Homo sapiens: one gene and its partner. The protein of the gene in region 1 interacts with the protein of each later gene in a biochemical or structural test. Each region holds a gene or a part of one and is shown in the gene's direction. Other genes may lie near its edges.

What was found. The genes of interacting proteins can lie anywhere in the genome.
Region 2: the proteins of EXOC2 (region 1) and SERGEF form a complex in vitro, tested with the Homo sapiens proteins (one study listed by BioGRID).

The regions. Positions count from the first base shown.
Region 1 is NC_000006.12:592,123-599,149, reverse strand, and holds part of EXOC2 (exocyst complex component 2), read left to right. Parts: coding exon 1-70; intron 71-208; coding exon 209-290; intron 291-1,026; coding exon 1,027-1,129; intron 1,130-6,562; coding exon 6,563-6,681; intron 6,682-7,027. UniProt on the Homo sapiens protein: Component of the exocyst complex involved in the docking of exocytic vesicles with fusion sites on the plasma membrane.
Region 2 is NC_000011.10:18,003,032-18,010,058, reverse strand, and holds part of SERGEF (secretion-regulating guanine nucleotide exchange factor), read left to right. Parts: intron 1-1,982; coding exon 1,983-2,118; intron 2,119-3,312; coding exon 3,313-3,468; intron 3,469-5,523; coding exon 5,524-5,618; intron 5,619-7,027. UniProt on the Homo sapiens protein: Probable guanine nucleotide exchange factor (GEF), which may be involved in the secretion process.

The DNA.
Region 1 (7,027 bases):
ACTCAATGTGCTTCAGCGATTTAAGTTTCTTTTCAACCTTCCTCTAAATATTGAAAGGAATATTCAAAAGGTAGAGTACATGTTTATTTATTTACATATGGTTGTAGATGTCATACATTTTTAAGATTTTTTAAGATGTTTTTTATATTAACCAAATGTCTTCATTTTGCATTACTGACAGTTTTCAAAATGTTTCTTTATTTTAAAGGGTGATTATGATGTGGTTATTAATGATTATGAAAAGGCCAAGTCACTTTTTGGGAAAACGGAGGTGCAAGTTTTCAAGAAATGTAAGATTCATGTATTACTTTTAGATCTTCTCCTTTCCTTTTATAGGAAGAATGTGGAATGTGTTCTGCAAAGAATGTTATATGAGTTTTTAGTTTTTGTTTATATGAGGCTCTCTTTACAATGTAAAGCAATTACTTCAGAAATAACAGTATGACTTTTCTTATTTGATACGCAGTGAAAATGAGCAACCACGACTCTAGGTTGTTCGCCTGAGACGTTCTCTGCCGTTTGTTAACCATCACGCTGTTAGAAAGTCTTAGTTTACTGGAAGGAATCAATGACAAGTATTTTCTAGAGATGGAAACCTACATTTTAATCTTCCCGTCTTCAGAGAGACCCATAGACTGAAGAATTCCAACCTCCTTTAAAGGAAGCTCAGCAACTTTTGAAGTTATGTCTAATGCCAGAGTTACAGTCCACCAGGAGAAATATCACAGGGCCTTATTAAATTTAAAAATGAAATCTGTAAGGACCCAGAAAACTAAATTTATTTTTTTATTGTGGTAAAATATACATGCAGTGAAATGTACAGACCTCACATGTTAGAGGTCAGTGAGTTTTGACAAATATGTACACCCTTGTAACCTACATCGGAGATAGTGTTCTGATCACTCTAGACACGGCCCTGGTGCCTCTTAGCCCTCACCCCACAAAAGCAACTACTATTCTGCTTTTTGAAATTTGATATTAAATTTTCATTCTGTAAATCTTGTGTATTCTTTTCTTTTTAAATAGATTATGCTGAAGTAGAAACAAGGATTGAAGCTTTAAGAGAATTACTTCTGGATAAATTGCTTGAGACACCATCAACTTTACATGACCAAAAACGTTACATAAGGTAAATCTTCTGCAAACATTTTGTTGAATCACATGTATCTGTTTGGTACTGTATGCATCTTGTAACCCTTAAGGCTAACTTGAGGGACTTTAGGAGATTGATGAAATGGTGAAGGGGAAGACAAATAGCAGAAATTTAGGGTTATCTGGCGTAGGACATCAAAATTCTTTTGAATACTAATAGATTTGGGAGTAGTTATGGAGTTACTCACTTTTTGAGAAAACTCTGCCATTTTCGGGAAAGGAAAAGTAGTCTCAACCTCTTCCTCCTGCTGAGCAAAGGGGTACCTTGCCTAGTGGGATGGTGTGGGTACCCATAATCTGTGAAGGAGGGGCTCCCTGCATGGCTTAAAGCAGAATACTGTCACACACTGGGTGGGAAATGCATTATGCCACAAGAATGTGCTGCTGCTTAACAGCACAGTAAGTTCTGGAAGGTTTTAACCTTGAATAGCTTTCTGATTTCCAAGCCTTTAGTGGTCAGTGAAAGAGAAATAAAGTCACTAAGTGAGCATACTTTTTAAAAAATTGCAGTAATATTGGGCCGGGCACCGTGGCTCATGCCTGTAATCCCAGCACAGCACTTTGGGAGGCTGAGGCGGGCGGATCACTAGGTCAGGAGTTTGAGACCAGCCTGACCAATGTGGTGAAACCCCATCTCTACTAAAAATACAAAAATCAGCCTGGCATGGTGATGTGCGCCTGTAATCCCAGCTACTCAGGAGGCTGAGGCAGGAGAATCGCTTGAACCCGGGAGGCAGAGGTTGCAGTGAACCGAGATCTCACACCACTGCACTCCAGCCTGGGCAACAGAGTGAGACTCTGTCTTAAAAAAAAAAATTTGCAGTGATATTAAGAGAGGTGAATTTCACAGGATATGAAGAGAAGGCCTTAGAGAGAAACAGTATCACATAATGGGAACTAGCTGTTAACTTTGGGCAACCGACTTGAGTTCTATTTTTCGGTTTCTTCATCTGAAATGGACATGGTAATCAAATCTGCATCTCAGGATAGTTGCAAAGATAATCAGAAATACATTTAAGGGTTTAATACCTCACCCGGCACATAAAAAGTAGTCAGTAAATTTTATGTACATGTAGTTTATGTCAGGGTTTGGAGATAAAGCATATAAATTTTAAGTTTTTTATATCTGTGATTAAAAATATTAACTTCATTTTCTGCTAGGATTTTTTGAGTATGGCCTTTGTTCTCAGAATAAATTATTTTCCAAATTTAATGGTTTTTCCACTTGAATTAGTGAAGTTTATTGACTATTCAGTGGTTGTAAAATGACAGACTATGTATTTATGAATTTAGCTGTGGTCCCCATGTGACCTTTGAAAATAATGTCTCAGGAACAGACACAGTGGCCCAGACCTGTGATCCCAGCACTTTGGGAGGCCAAGGCAGAAGGATTGTTTGAGTCTAAGAGTTCAAGACTAGCCTGGGCAATATAGCAAAACCTGGTCTCTGCAAAAAATCAAAAATTAGCCAGATGCGGGGATGCATGCCTGTAGACCCAGCCACTCAGGAGCCTGAGGCAGTAGGATCTCTTGAGCCCAGGAGTTCGAGACTGCACTGAGATGTGATCGTACCACTGCACTCGAGCCTGGGTGACAGCAAGATCCTGTCTCTGAAAAGAAAAGACTGTCTTGAAAAGAGCGTCTGGCCTGAAAGCTGCTGTGTGTGCAAGTGTGAACGGGGGAAAAGATCCGCACCTGGACCTGTGTCCTAGTGATGAGGCGTACGGCGGGAGTATGAGCCGTCGTCATTGGCAGCACACTAGTATTGCCCAGGAGGAAGCAAGCAGAGGCAGTGGCGGTGGGATGAAGAGAGGGTGCTGTGTTTGCATGCTGCCACCCCTGCACGTGTGCAGCATGCTCAGGCGCTGTGCGGGATGTGTTCTACATGTCCTCTCTAATCCTGATCACCACCATGAAAGGACGCTTGTGCGGTGCCCATTGTACAGGTGAAAACACGGAAGCTTGCCCAGCACACACAGTGACCCGGGGGACGGGACGCCTGTTTGGCTTCAGAGCCCACTCTTGTTTCTCTCTAAGCTGCCTCCATAAGAAAGAATGTATATAGGGGATTTTCCTGGTTTGTAGAATCCTAGAAATGTAAAGCTGGAAATAAACCACACATTTGTCATCCAACTGCTTTATTTTCTACCTAGAAAGCGACAGAGTTGCAGGGAGGTTGAGCGTAGTGTCCAGGACACGCAGCTGGGTAGCCTCAGACGTCCTGAGGCTGCTGTTTCCTGCCCTGCTCCTTCACTGCGTGTGCTTTGTATATTTCTGGCCTGTTTACACTTGTTATGTTAAACTTGCCTATAGTAGTGTGTTAAATCTTGTTGAGTGTACAAATTCTTTATGTTGTGGGTTACCATCTATATGGATAACTCATGTGCAGTTTTTATGAGTATATAACTTACTGGATATCGTTTAAAAGGTGGTAGTGCCAAAAAAGATTCTTTTAAGGAGCCTTTTAACTACGATTTTTCCTGTCATCTTAAAGGCAAAAGAGCAAAAATATAAACAAGTCAACAATAGTTTATGTATTTGTTAATGATTATTTTATTTACGATGCTTTGAGAAAATACTGAGCAATTGTTACCTTTTTAAATGAAATTTTTAGTCGCTAAGAAATAGAAAAATAAGATCAGAACCAGGTCAAATACCTGTTGGACTTTGAAATTTATGAGCATCAAGTAGGAATAGAGATAGCTTTATCATGAACAAAAATGTATTAGTTTTCTTACATAATCCAGATTATGCATAGTAGAGGGGAAAATCAGATTACCACTATATTGTCTTACTGTTCACAATTTTTTCTAATATCATTCACTATTTTATCTAATTTAAACCTTCCCTATTCTTCTCCCTCTCCTTATTTCTATCTTGATGTTGGCAGGAAGCAAAGCTCTGCATATTCCTTTCCACAGCAGTGTGATCTTATCCCTGGTAGCTGTGAGAAGATCATGTCAGAATATGACTAAAAACTTCCTTTATTCTTAAATTTTAAAATACTGAGCCTGTGTTAATCATAATTAACATTCTTTACATTGCTTTTGAATCTAAAAAGCCTTTTTAAAGTGTTCTTAATATGCAGTTTTAAAAGAAATGGCGATAACATGTATCATTCTAAACAGAGTTTTGAAATGTAACTACTTATTTTTAGCTGCATACTGAAAGGAAACAAGAAACTTATTTGAAGAGCCCAGCACAAGTTGTCATGCTTTTGAACTGAGTCTAGAATTTCTAAAAGAACAACTTTATCTTGCTTTGTAAAACTTTTATAAACTCCTTTACTTTAATACCCGTTAATAAGATGATAGAAAAAGTCTTTTGTTATTAGGTTTTGCAAGGACACAGTCAACATTTTAAAGAGACGTATAATGTAAAAAGCCACTAAGCAAAGCTTATTGATTCCTCTTGCTGTACTCCTGGAGAAAGAACCCTTGTACGGAACTGTCTACACTCCTATTCAGTAATTTAAACATTAAAAGGAACACCGTCCCTAAAAGAGTATCTCTTTATTTTACTACTAACACCAAATCTGAGGGCTACGTGAGTGAAAGTGTTAGGAGAAAGCGTTGCAGAGGTGTTGGGAGGCAAAACAAGCCTATTTAGGGAGAACGCTGAAATGCATCATCCCCAGCAAGAAAGCATAGAATCACGTTCTTTGGGAAGAAAGACACAGTGTACTATTTGTTATATTTATCGTTCAGGTAATAAAAGAAGAAAGCCTTGTGTGAGAGAAAGAATCAGACTGCATTTTGGAATCTGAAATGAATCCCCTGTGCCAAGCTAAATGTAACTTGTTAGATTGTAGTTTTCTTCTCAGGATACTATTCTCATTTATGAGGAGGAGTGCTGGTGACTTCTTAATCTGAGTAAAGCTCTTCCTTCTAATTGACCTGCCACTTTCTCAGCACAGAGACACATCCTGTTTGCAACCTGTAGGTGGTCACAAGGGGGAGGAGATGGCAGCTCTCAGCCACCTCTGGGCAGCCTGAGTGTGGCCCGTCTGCAGATGCCTGGATATCCGGCTCCCCACAGCACCCAGTCCCTCCCCATCAGCTGGGAATGTCAGTGTTCTCAGCATTTTATTTGTTGCTAACATATTACAAAGTGGATTTGTTTCTCCTCTGATTGGCTGCTGATTGAGATACCTGAGTAACACACACTCACTACTGGAAGAATGGGCTGGAAGCATGGGTGCACCCCTGAGGGATTGAGGTCTGGCCCAAGGTCAGCCTGGAGCCATTGATGATGATTTACCACTGAACAAAAACCTCTAACCCAGAGACAAAGAATGGCATATGGCTTAACAACAGTTTTAAGACAATAAATTCATTTGGACATGCTTTTGGAGTTGATTTAATTGGATTTAGCTTGCTATATTTATATATTTTGTGAGGGCTGAGGGCCAAATCTTAAATAATATTTGACAGAAATTTTTCTATGGAAGTAAATGGTCTCTATGGATTTGGGTGTTTTATAGACAAAGACTTGATATATTTTAAGAATATTTAGAAACTAAGAAAAACACCGAACTATACTATATTTCCTAGAGAAATATTTTCTCAGTCGTGAGTGTGGACTTTAGAGGTGAGTGTTGTCACCAAATCTCTTCACAGTTCGGTTAGCCCTCATTTAGCTAGTTTTAGAAAGCGGTGCCATACTGCCATCTCGTGGCCATATTTCATATCAGAAAGGAATTAAAAAACATCTGAAATTTTAAAAGTATTTGCCCAGTATCTGCTGGCTCCCACCTGTGTCTAATATAATGACTCTGAACTAAGTAGAAAAACTCCTGTGAACTAAATATAAATATAAAGAAAAATGCTCATCAGGTAGATAGGATCACTGCAAATTGTCCTTATCTTTTTACAAAGAGCTGTTTTTAATAGTTTTATCATTTATATGAAAAAATTTTAAAGCTCTGCTGTTTATTTTTTTATTTTTTGTTTGCTTGTTTGTTTGTTTGGAGATGGCGTCTCACTCTGTCGCCCAGGCTGCAGTACAGTGGTGAGATCTCAGCTCATTGCAACCTCTGCCTCTCGGGTTCAAGCGATTCTCCTGCCTCAGCCGCCCGAGTAGCTGAGATTACAGGCTTGCACCAACACACTTGGCTAATTTTTGTATTTTTTTTTAGTAGCGACGGGGTTTCAGCACGTTGGCCAGGCTGGTCTTGAACTGCTGACCTCAGGTGATCCATCCACCTCAGCCTCCCAAAGTGCTGGGATTACAGGCAGGAGCCATCTCACCTAGCCAAGAAATTTGAATATATTTCATTGAGAATTAAATATTAAAGACTAATATTTGACAGGGCACAAGACTAATTGATAAAATTTTAGCCTTTAAAAAGTAATGATTTTAAAATATGCCAGCATTTCCCTTTGGCCTCAACCTTGGACTTGCTTTTTCAGGTACCTGTCTGACCTTCATGCGTCTGGTGACCCTGCTTGGCAATGCATTGGAGCCCAACACAAGTGGATCCTTCAGCTCATGCACAGTTGCAAAGAGGGCTACGTGAAAGATCTGAAAGGCAAGGATTTCTCTTCCAATGTGTTGTGTGATTCCTTCATGTCATTTTGATGCATTCTGGGAATGTTTAATGATGAAGGCACTGACTACCTAATTTACTTGGTATCTCTTATTATTGTCTTTTGCTTGTTTTGTGGTTTTTTTGGCCACTGGTTAGCATTGTACTAATGAAAAGGGACAACTCTTTTATCATGTCTGTTTTTGCGATTGGTGGACAGCGTTGACGTTTCGGGGCAGGCAGCGTGATGCCGAGGAGGTGACATTGGTCTTTGGTAACTATCAGTCTGCACATCGTCTCGTCAGGTGTATGTTGAGTCCTGCTCTGTGCCAGGCACTGCACCCATCGC
Region 2 (7,027 bases), on another chromosome or scaffold:
ATTATAAAGATTTCTGAAATCTTAGTAAGATTCTCTCTGCAGGTCCACAATCCCTTGTCTTCAATTCTGAATACAAAAAGCTCTGAAAACCCAAAACTTACTGGACATAAGGCCATTTATAGTCTTTGGCCACTTCTTATGAATATTTGTACTTTGTAATGCAGAAATATTATTGTTTTGCTTATGGGCTGCTGTCCCTGGACCTTGCATCAGTATATATGACATATGTACTGTATTACTTTTCTAAAAGCTGTAAAATTCTGAATCTGAAATACATCTGACTGTAAGCATTTCAGATTAGGGATTATGGACCCTTTTTGTATAATAATAATAATAATAGACATATTGCCTGTCAAGGGGAAATCTGTCCCCTTACTGGAATCTCACCATGTGAATCTTGGAGTCACATAGCACTGTACTTGGAAAGGGCTTTAGAGATCATTGCCAGCCTCTTTCACTGTACAAATGAAATAATGACGTGCCTTGCTTTAAGGCAAGAAATCCTTAGCCAGCTTTGATTCCAGAGTCATTGTTGGTTTTCCCATCATGGGTGTGGGGAGGAGAAACAAGAACTAATTCCAGGATGTTGCCCTCCCATTTTGATGCCATTTCTCTCTCATTTTTTTCTTTCCTTAGCTTCCCTAGGTAGTTAGCTTTTATCAGAAGGAACCCCTGTGCTGTCTCCAAAAGGCAGTACCTGGGGGCTGGAGCATAAGAAGGGAAAGATGAGGAATATTACTGGCTGAGTTGTGGATGCCTAGGACTCTTCTCATATCGAAATCATGGTGTTCTGAGGATGGGGCCTCCATCTAAATATGGGAGCATATAACAGCCGTTAAGAATGAGCCTAACAGGTCATTTCCTCTTTGGTCAGTTTCCCACTTGACAAAGGAAGGGTAAGATTTACATTCCCAAATGCTCCAGAGTCCTTCTGGTGAGCGAATTATTATTATTTTTCTTTTCAGATTTTGGGGAAGGGATTTGAGGAGGGAAGAAAGGAGATGGGGTAAGAGTGTTTCTAAGTCTGAAACTCTCTCTGTCCTGAGCTGTTCCCGTGGTTACTCAAGGACAAGGGGAGACAGTTTTGCCCACAGCTCCAGAGACACAGATAACAAAGGAATGACCTTCATTTTTCTTCAGGTTGGACCCTGTAGGGGTCTGTGAGCAGCTTCTCCTGGAACTTTGTTTGGATTCTGTGTCCATATTTATAATTTATTTGAAACACGCTGGATAGTGTTCTCATTTGGGGGCTGAAGTTCAGCTAGGGAAAGCAGTGAGGTGGCATGGGTGCAGGAGGAGGGGGTAAGGAGAGATACGAGATACACCTGCCAACGACTCGTAGCCCAGAACTCTCTCTAGAGAAGAGAAGCCCCTCCTCCTCAAGAGGCTGTCTTGTTCTCAGTCAGAAGAACCTTGATTTAGGAGATGGCCTCTCTTTTCCTGGCCATTCTAAGAGGAAAGGCCATTTTACCCCATTACCTCCAGAGGGTTGGGCTAGGCCAAGGACCTCATAGGACTCATGTCCCCTTCAGCCATGGCTAGCATTGCTGCTTTGCCTTCTGGGGCCTGAGGTAGAAAAAAGTGTGGTTTCTTCAGCTGCTGCAGGAGGCCAAGCAGGGCATTTGTCCTTTGCCCCAGTAAATTAAGCCTGCCAGGGTGCCTACCTAGGAACTTTCCTGGACATGAATTTCCTCCACTGTTATGGTCATGAGTCTCTTTCTAATGGGATTACAGATCAGGGGTGGGGAGACAGTGTTACCTGTTGTTTTCTGGTGCTTGTTATTATATATTTGAATAAACAGTGCTGTGAGTATTTGCCGTGAAGGAGCTAAAAATTTTTTTTTAAAAAAGAATGAGCCTAATAAATCTCATCTGTTACAGGGTCTGAGAGATACGTCAGGGTGAGAGAGACAGAGACAGGTAAATAGACATTGACAGTTGTGGTTCCCACACTTTTTCATCCTTGGCTTATTCATCCCTAGGGTGCAAATAGCTATGGGCAACTTGGCCTCGGCCATAAGGAAGATGTGCTGTTGCCCCAGCAACTGAATGACTTCTGTAAACCCAGGAGTGTCAGGAGGATCACAGGAGGAGGGGGCCACTCTGCAGTTGTCACAGGTAATTTCCTTCAAAAGTAGATAGTCACTCATTTTCTTATTTAGACGTTTTCCCCTGGATATGATATTGCCATCTTTCAGCCTTTTGTATTTTGCAGAGGAAAATAATGTATTTTTGTGAAACATTTTTGTGAAAGAGCCAAATTACCATCAGAAGATCCTAGATTTTCAGGGCTAGAAGGACTTCAGAGATCTTCTAGGCCACCCCTTTCCCCCACCCCCTCCATTATACAAATGAAACTCAGAAAGGAACACTGATTGCTTAACATCACAAGGCAAAGTAGTGGCAGAGTTACAATGTATATTTTACACCATAGGAATTAGAAGTCTTTGTAATTAGATTGGATATTCCTTGAGAGCAAAAACTGTGTGTTCCCCTTAATCTTCCCTTACTGTATCTAGGATAGCACTTAACAAGTAGTACAAGTGCTACAATGTTGTAAAGGGGGGCATATTGCATCTGGTTGAGAACATGAGCTCTGGAATCAAATCTCTGGGTTCAGATCCTGGTTCTGTGACTTATTATCTATGTGGCCTTGGGCAAATAGCCACAGTTTCTGAATCTGTTACATGAGGATAATAATGGTGGGTGAAGAGAACCAGTGAGTTAGCAGGGCTCCATTCCGACTGTCATGGGTCGTTGGTGCTTTTCCCTTTATGGACCTCTTCCTTTGTAAAGAAAAAAATTATATTTTACAACTGTGTTGGTATAAAGATGGATATTAATAGAATCCACTCCAGATTTAGTGTTATATATGCATTGTTACTATATTATCTTTTTCTCATTTAAAAATAACTAAAAATTAAGCCACTCTGTGGGCCTCTGAAAGCATTGTGGGCCCTAGACACTGTGCCTAAAGGATAAGTCCGCTCTGCACAAAAAGCTCTTAAAACAGTACCTGGCACGTTCTCAATGTTGAATAAATGTTGTTGGCTTTTTGTTCCAGTAGATGCTCAGTTTGGTGATTGATTGACCACTGCGCCAAGACTTGAAGTTTCTCTGTAGGTATTAGTTTGAGGCCCTTGGCCTTGTGTTGTTTGGCTCCAGAATACATGAACATACACAGCTTATTAACTTGGATGGCAAAAAAAGTTATTGGTCTGAGAGTCCAAATAATTAGTGAAATCTTTTTGTTCATTTTGCAGTTGTGTTTTTTCCTGTGCACGCTATCACTGATGCCTTTATATTTTGCAGATGGAGGAGACCTCTTTGTTTGTGGCCTGAACAAAGATGGGCAACTGGGGCTTGGTCACACAGAGGATATCCCATATTTTACCCCCTGCAAATCCCTCTTTGGCTGTCCCATCCAACAGGTGGCCTGTGGCTGGGATTTTACGATTATGCTCACAGGTGAGTTCACTCCTAGGTAGATTTTTGTCACCACAAAGGCTTTGGGTGAGAACAGTATGATGATGGTGACTGCAGATTAAATGAAAGCCTCTTTGTGTTTAAAAAGCACACATAAGGCCTGGTGCGGTGGCTCACAATTGTAATTCCAGCACTTTGGGAGGCCAAGGCAGGTGTATCACTTGAGGTCAGGAGTTCGAGACCACCCTGGCCAACATGGTAAAACCCCGTCTCTACTAAAAATACAAAAATTAGCCAGGCGTGGTACCCCATGCCTATAGTCCCAGCTACTCTGTAGTCCCAGCTATTTGGGAGGCCGAGGCAGGCGAATCACTTGATCCTGGGAGGTGGAGGTTGCAGTGAACTGAGATTGCGCCACTGCACCCCAGCCTGAGCAACAGAGCAATAATCCATCTCAGAATAAATAAAAATAAATAAAAAGCACACACAAATTTTCCCTCTGGTTGTCAAGGAAAGTTGTGGACTACCTTTTCTAAGGAGAGTTTAACGGTAAAGGAGACTGGGATTGGGGTGGAAAACTTTTGTCAGAGAGTAGGGAATAGACTAGATCACCTTTGGTGGCCACTTCCTGTCCCAAAAGTTCATGATAGCTGTGTGCTTGGGGTAGCTGGCCAGTGGCCAGCAGTGGCAGCAGAGGGTTACTTACAGGGAATGTGGTAGGAGAATATGAGGCAATAGTGGTTGCCAAAGCAGTGATGGCAGCTTTTTCACACTGTGGGATTTTTTTTTTTCTAAATGTGTTAGGCAGATCTGTTTGGTCTTTGTGAAGCCAGGTAGCAGGATAGGATATGGCCAGAGGGTTATTAGAGTAATGCACTTGGGAACAGCCAGCAGTAGTTACCTTGTCAGCTGACGTCTGTTCCCTTGAAGCAGTTTTGACCTCTCTGTTCAGCTTTGCTCTGTCTAGCTGGCCATTCTGGATTTAAAGGACCATCTGTGGTTTCTGACCAGGCTCCCTCTTTGCCACGGTCCTTTGGCAAGGGCATCTTCTGTCACTCTCCTGTCATAAACCCTTGTGGATTCTCCCAGACATAGCTCAGATTCCTAGCTTTTTAGCGTTGGCCTTCTGTAACTGTTCCCTAGCTATCTTTGTGCTGTGTCTCTTATTCTCCACACTCCTCATACTTTTCTTTCTGGTCATACCAAGCAGTATATGTTCTTCTGTCTGTCTGGACCAGCCCCTCTTGTCTATCTGATGGACTCGAATCCCAGCTTTAAAACCCTGCTCAAGTGTCACCATCCTCCTCTGTGGAGGGGTTCTGTAATATGTGTTGAATTTGATGGTGATTATTAGAATCTAAACAATAACTATCATTTATAAGGTGTTTATTGTGAGCCTATGTTTTGGATTGTAAGGAGTCAGTAGATAATGCTCTTTCCTGCTCACATTTGGAGCCAGTTGTGAGAAAAGCACAGAGAAGTCAGTATTGGAGATTAAAAACTATTGGCTTTTCACTGGTAAAGGCTAAATTGGAGGACAGTATTAATTATGAGGCCAGTGGTCCTAATATTCTTCTGGTCCAAACTTACCCCCAAATCTCTAGGCTTTCCCCACAGGGAAATGCTTCCTATGTGTCAGCCTAGAATGACTGAGAGGGAGGTGCCAAGCCACACATGTCCTGTCCCATCTCCTAAACTCACCAGTTGGTTACATGACCGCTGTCCCCTAGAAAGCAGTGAGGATGGGGAAGGGCAGGGAGAAAAGCTGGAGTGTTGTTTTACTAATGGAAATTTTGTCACATGGAAACATGAAAAATGAAAAATTACTATCCTCCCATCCCAATACGAGGCACTGAGTTAAGTGTTCTACACAGATAATCTGTTATTAATGAGAGAATAGAATAGACAATCTGTGTAGAGTGCTTAACCTGGTGCCCAGTGTTTTCATTCCTAGAGGAATAAAAGCAGGGAATATGGTCTGAATGCACTGAAGCACTTCCCCTCATCCCCTTTGCATCTCTCACCCTGCAGCATTTACCCATTGGTCACAGACATCTTACTTCATAGATTTGCAATTTAAGTATTTGTATTTTGCAGAAAATGGTCAAGTTCTATCATGTGGATCCAACTCCTTTGGCCAGTTAGGAGTTCCTCATGGACCTCGAAGATGTGTGGTTCCCCAGGCCATTGAGGTGAGGACAGTTAATATTTAGCTTGCCCATGACCTGTTAAAGTGTTTCCAAGGTATTAACCTATCTCTCCCCAGAATAAAAGGCTGTCAGGATCCCTGAGAACCCATGGAGTAGGAGAATTTGAGTTGAAAAATAGGTCCTTCTGGGAAAAATTAAGTTGGGAGGTAAACGTTGTGAATGAAAACCTCTGTTAGTTTTCATACACTTCATATGAAGTTTTGTGAAATAAAACAATAAGAGTAATACATCTCATAAGGATATTGATGACATTTTACAGTTCTAAAATTAGTAATAATGGAAATTATGTTAGAAATAGGTCCAGATAGAAGTGATTTGTCGAAAGACACTAAGCTAGGCAAATGGTATAGGCCAGTGCTAGCCAGTAGAAATATAATGTGAGCCATATGTAATTTAAAATTTTCTAGTAGCCCTATTTAAAAAAGAAACAGGTGAAAGTAATTTTTAAAATAACAGCATTATTGAGCTGTAATTCACATACCATAAAATTAACCCCTTTAAAATGTATATCCACAGAGATGAGCAACCAATATCATTATCTTATTTTAGAACATTTTCATTACCACCAAAAGAAACTATGTACTTAATAGCAGTCAATTCCTATTCTCCCTTCCCCTCAGCCCCTGGTGAGTACTAATCTACTTTTTGTCTCTATAGATTTGCCTGTTATTTCAGCATGTCATCAGTATAAAGTTATTTTTTGTTTTTATTTTTATTTTTGAGATGGAGTCTCACTCTGTTGCCCAGGCTGGAGTGCAGTGGCGCGATCCCGGCTCACTGCAACCTCCGCCTCCCAGGTTCAAGCAGTTCCCTGCCTCGGCCTCCCGAGTAGCTGGGATTACAGGTGCCTGGCACCATTCCCAGCTAATTCAGTATAAAAATTATTAACAAGGTATTTTATACTGATTTTGTACTAAGTCTTTGAACTCTGGTATGCATTTTTTACTTACAATATGTCTCAGTTTAGTGTAATCACATTTCAAGTTTTCAAGAGCTATGTGTAGGTAGTGGCTACCATATTGGACAAAACAAGTGTTAAACAGGACTCTTGGCTCTAGTTCAGAGCTCTTTACTTCAGTGCATCATACTTAAAATCACCCCTTTTTGTGAAGTTTATATTGTAAGTGATCATAATAGGAATATAGAATTTTTAAAGAAATATGCTTGAATCAAAAATGAGTTTTACCACCTAAGCTGTCCCACTCCGATCTAATTTCCCTAAACTCTGATTAATAGTGGGAGATGTTTTTTCCCTAGAGAAAGCTTGGGTCTGCCCCTGCCAGCTTGCTGAACTCAGTTGTTGGTCTGTGGACTGTTATTTCGGGTCATGGTTCCCATGGTATGCACAAAGTCTAGGCTCTGTAGTCCCTGAAGGAAGTATTATAGCTCCC